Linked DNA regions of Homo sapiens: region 2 is linked to region 1. The links come from fine-mapping of genetic effects on gene expression. Tissue or cell type: blood mononuclear cells. Region 1 holds a variant in brackets; the other region holds the start of a gene. All regions are shown on one strand. Distances are between the middles of the regions.

Evidence for each region. PIP is the estimated chance that this variant, and not a neighbour inherited with it, causes the effect.
Region 2: it holds the start of MAPRE1, and the variant in region 1 is fine-mapped to the expression of MAPRE1 in blood mononuclear cells (TOPMed, PIP above 0.99). The same link has a PIP of 0.9 or more in T cells, esophagus muscle and tibial artery.

The regions. Positions count from the first base shown.
Region 1 is chr20:32,856,056-32,858,702 of GRCh38, forward strand. It overlaps LOC119746555 (a long non-coding RNA gene), which reads left to right and starts at 577. Exons shown (of 1, transcript NR_171378.1): 1 at 577-2,647. The variant T/C (reference allele first, on the strand shown) is at 1,605.
Region 2 is chr20:32,818,499-32,821,145 of GRCh38, forward strand. It overlaps MAPRE1 (microtubule associated protein RP/EB family member 1), which reads left to right and starts at 1,456. Exons shown (of 7, transcript NM_012325.3): 1 at 1,456-1,530. RefSeq lists a silencer at 1,173-1,762 and enhancers at 1,835-2,504, 2,505-2,647.

The sequences.
Region 1 (2,647 bases):
CCTTAATTTTGAAGCCTGAGAGAGGAAGTAATAATTTTCTTTTTTTTTTTTTTTTTTGGTAGGGATGGGGTTTGACTATGCTGTGCAGGTTGGTCTGCAACTCCTAAGCTCAAGTGATCCGCCCTCCTCCGCCTCCCAAAGTGCTGGGATTACAGGCCTGAGCCACCGTGCCTGGTCTGAAGAAGTAATAATTTTAAGATTCAGTGTTGAGTGAAATAAATGTATTCTTAAAAATTTCTAAGAGTGTTTAACTCTCTGACCTAATATTTAATATTTTCCCCAATCATTAGGAAGTGCTTTTTTGTTGTTGTTGTTGTTTTTTTTCCAGGCAGGGTCTCGCTCTGTCACCCAGGCTGGAGTGCAGTGGCATGGTCACGGCTCACTGCAGCCTTGACTTCCCGGGCTCAAGTGATTCTCCCACCTCAGCCTCCCAAGGAGCTGGAACTGCTCAGCTAATTTTATTTTTGTAGAGACAGGGTCTGGCTATGTTCCCCAGGCTGGTCTCAAACTCCTGGGCTCAAGCAGTCCTCCACCACTCCTGGCCAAGAAGTGCCTTTTTTTTTTTTTTTTTTTTTAAAGTAGCTGCTGAACACAGGAGAATCTGCCTTTTTCTTGAATCGTGGTTTTTTTGTTTTTTTTTTTTTCAAGACGGAGTGTTGCTGTTGTCGCCCGGGCTGGAGTGCTGTGGTGCGATCTTGGCTAATTGCAACCTCCGCCTCCCAGATTCAAGCGATTGTCCTGCCTCAGCCTCCCGAGTAGCTGAGATTACAGGCACGCACCACCGTGCCTGGCTAATTTTTGTGTTTTTAGTAGAAACAGGATTTCACCATGTTGGCCAGGCTGGTCTCAAACTCCTGACCTTGTGATCCACCTGCCTCGGCCTCCCAAAGTGCTGGGTTTACAGGCGTGAACCACTGCACCCGGCCTGAATCATGGTTTTTTGAAACCATTGGCATCTGAACCTGTAGCTCTCTCTGGTAGTGTTGTGTGGTTTTAAATGTCATGTGAGCTGAGTTACTGACCTCAACCTACTGCCAGATGAAGGTGTGATCCTGTGATACCAATCTTGAGGGTCCCTTCTAGTTTTAGCAGTCAGTGACTTCTCTTGTTTATTTTTGTTTGAAAAAGTAAAAGGCTCTCTTTTTGGCTATAGAGTTGCATCTTGAAATTTTTGACAAATTACATAGAGCTGAAGAAGGATACAAGTTTTGATATCTTAAAATCACAGGGTTGAAGCTTGAAAGGACAGTATTGGCATTGCAGCTAAGTGGGAGTGTGAGGAAGCGCCTTCTCTAGGGCAGGTAATTGCATCTGTTAATGTGGTCCTTGGGCCCCTGAGTTGCTGCCTTCCAATCAGAATTCCCTTAGCATTAGCCAGTGACGCCTGAATTAATCTCAGGTAGGACTTCTAACTTTTTTCCAAAATTATTTTTGTGCAGAGGTTTATCTAGATTTTTCTTCTAAATGTCCTCCTCCCCACTTGTTTTATTATTACTGTTTTTTTCTCTCTTTAATTTTTTTTTTTTTTTAATAGAGACATGGTCTCACTATGTTGCCTGGGCTGATCTCAGACTCCTGGGCTCAAGTGATCCTCCTGCCTCAGC[T/C]TCCCAAAGTGCTGGGATTATAGGCGTGAGCCATTGCGCCTGGCTCTGTTACTGTTTTTCTAACCTGAGTTACTTAGGATCATATTTTCATTCTTTTTTAAAAAGATGGGAGTTTTCTGAACTTTTCCTTAACTAAAAAGTGGAATGCATCTTAATATTTTCCTTTTTTTACTTGTGTTTCTCCCCAGGGAGGGAAAAACATATTTATTGTGACAGAATTTAGCATATTTTAGGCCACATTAAAATACTGATAAATGTATTAATCAGTGAAAATAGGTTATAGTGAAAAATATATACCATTTGATTAATAAAAATGTTATTGGAAAAATGCAAGAACTGCTGTAAGAATTGCTAACATTGTGTTGGAAAATAAATATACTAAGCTAAGAAACAATGGGAAACTGTCATATGTAGGGCCAACAGCCTTTTTTTTTTTAAACCCTTCCAATTTATTAATATCTAGTCTAATAAACCCTGATTTATAGGACCTCTGCACCTTTTTTGACTTTTTATTCATCCATTCTTAATATTCTACACTATGACAAAATCCTTAAAACTCCATTATTGATGAAATGGGAACAGACTTTTGTTTTTGTATGTTGGTGTTCTCTGAGTGGTGAAGGCCCAGGGAGAATGTTTTGTTTGGTGGTCACTTAGCATTTGAAAACATCCACTTCCTTGTGACTTAGCTGGGTATCTTTTAACATCTGGAAGCCACGTCCCTGATTGAAATCTCTGGAGACAACTTACCTTTCACCAACTTGTCTGCCAAATTGCACCATGGACCAAGATTGCAGTGGCTGCATCAAGTCTAGGCCTGCCCTGAAGTCTGGATTTGTAAGTCCCCCATTTCAAATGGGGCAGAAGGCAGAGGAGCAGAGGAGCCACTGTGCCTTTCGCTGTCCTGGAGCCAGTTGGCCTTCTGGTTTTGGTGAACCCTGCTTTTATAAGAGGACTCCCTGGCATCTTCCAGTTTCCCGCTACTTGTTTTATGTATTATTTTATGTCTGTGTTTGTCCTGGAGTGCTGTAACTCCTTTCACT
Region 2 (2,647 bases), 38 kb before region 1:
AGTGGTGCAGTTCCTCTTTTTTTCTTTTTTAGACGAAGTCTGACTGCAACCTCTGCCTCCCAGGTTCAAGTGATTCTCCTGCCTCAGCCTCCCAAGTAGCTGGGATTACAGGCGCCCACCACCATGCCCGGCTAAGTTTTGCATTTTTAGTAGAGATGGGGTTTCGCCATGTTGGACAGGCTGGTTTCCAACTCCTGACCTCAGGTAATTCATCCGCCTTGGCCTCCCAAAGTGTTGGGATTACAGGTGTGAGCCACCACGCCCAGCCCAGTTCCTCCTTCAGCCAAGGCTCTCTTGAGAATGTAAGGGCCAGGTGTGGTGGCTCACGCCTGTAATCCCAGCACTTTGGGAGGCCGATGCGGGTGGATCTCTCGAGCCCAGGAGACCAGCCCAGCCTGGGCAACATGGCAAGACCCCATCTCTTAAAAAAAAAAAAAAAAAAAAGAGGGAGTGGGCAAGAGAGAATGTATGTACAGCCATTGGGAAACAACCCGGAACAGGACTCAGGAGGTCCTTGCTCCTGTGGACTTTACAGGAGACAGACAGTAAAGGCACAAGATGCCTTCTTATGGTACTAAGAAGAAAATATGCCGCATGATATTGCAGATGGGGGGGCGGGGGCGTCACAGAACGTGACTTTTTTTTTTTTTTTTTGAGACAGAGTCTTGCTCTGTCGCCCAGACTGGAGTGCAGTGGTGCAGTCTCGCCTCACTGCCACCTCCGTCTCCTGGGTTCAAGTGATTCTCCTGCCTCAGCTTCCCAAGTAGCTGGAATTACAGGCGCCCACCACCACGCCAGGCTAATTTTTGTATTTTTAGTAGAGATGGGGTTTCACTATGTTGGCCAGGCTGGTCTCAAACTCCTGACCTCAGGTGATCCTCCCACCTGGGCCTCCCAAAGTGCTGGGATTAAAGGCGTGAGCCACTGCACCCGGCCCAGAAAGTTGACTTCTAAGCGTTTCCCCAAAGTGTCTATTAGGTATCTTTATGATTCAATAACCCATTCTTACAGAAATTAATTGTAAGCCTGGGAGCGGTGGCTCACGCCTGTTATCCCAGCGCTTTGGGAGGCTAAGGCGGGAGGATCGCTTGAGGCCAAGAGTTCGAGACCACCCTGGGCAACACAGCGAGACCTCCATACATCTCTAAGCAAAAAAAAAAAAAAATTCATTGTAAAAGCAATTTTCTTTTTGGTTACTGCCATAGGGATTTTGTAACTGAGTCACACCGGGCCGAGGCGGGACCTCATTGGCTGCGACCGACCACGTGCCGCAGTCGCCCCGGCGGTCGGGGCCCCGCCCCTCGGCTACCGTTCTGTGGATCAGGGGCCGAGCTCCGCCCCCGGCGCGCGGCTGAGACCCTCTCTATAAAAGGAGCCGGCGGAGGATGGCGAGCCTTTACGTCGGCGCGTAACGAGGGGGTGCGTGTGAGGTCATCGCGCGGGCGGGCGGGCGGGGTCTGGCGGTTTGAACGAGACGAAGACGGAACCGGAGCCGGTTGCGGGCAGTGGACGCGGTTCTGCCGAGAGCCGGTGAGCCGGCTAGCGGGCCCGGGGGGTGCGGCTGGGGGGGCGGCCGCGTGGGCCAAGGCCGGGCGTGCGCGGGCAGGCCCTACGGGCAGCGCCAGGGCCGTTCCACACGGCGGTGCTGTTCGAGCCGGGTGGGGGAAGGGCGGGGCCGTCACCCGGCGCGCGCGGGCTGGGCCTGGGGGCGCGCGCTGCGCTCTGCTCAGGGGGCGGGGTCTCGGGCCGGAAGTGGGCTGCTGCTACGCGGGGTGGGGGTTTCTGGGCCGCCGCTGAGGTGTGGTCCCTGCGCTGCAGCGACTGGAGGTCCCAGGGTGGTTGGGCCCTGGGAGGGTGTGGGCGAGGTGGGCCGTCCTGGGAGCTCTGGGGACGCACATTGTGGGAGGCCGTGTTGCCTGAGGGCCGAGAGATCGGGTGGTGGAGTCAGACCTGGGTTGGGTTCCGTGCGGTGTGACCTTGGACAGGTGCTTTAACCGCTGTGGATCTCAGCTTCCTCATCTGTAAAACGGGGACAGTAATACTACCCACATTAAACTCTTAGCGCGATGTATGGCAGAAAGTAAGCCAGCTCTTGGACTCCCTCCTTTCTTCAGTGTGTGTTTATTGAATGCCCACTAGGTGTTGGGCACCGTGCTAAACCCTGGCTGTTTTCCCGGGAACAAAGATTTGCTCTCCAGGAATCCACATTATGATGAGCAGGAGGACAGTATAACGGGATGGTATCAACAGTGCTAGTTCAGTCCCTACTTCACAGTTGCCCTCGGATGCTGCAGGGCAGAGCTTGACCTCTGCCCCATTTTGGGGATGAGGATCCTGGGGCCCATTGAGGGAGGTTATGCTAGGCCGGGCATCCGCTTCTCCGATGGCATGTCTCTAACAGTAGTAATGATAATAGCAGCTCTTTGTTAGTTGGGCACTTGTTTTGTGTCAAGCACTGTTAAGTGCTCCATGTGGCTTTGTGTCTTTTAATACTAACACTGTCTTTAAGAGAGATTCTCTTCTTCCTTTTTTTTTTTTTTTTGAGACAGAGTTTTATTCTGTTGCCCAGGCGTGCAGTGGCACCATCGCTCACTGCAACCTCCGCCTCCCGGGTTCAAGCGATTCTCGTGCCTCAGCCTCCCGAGTA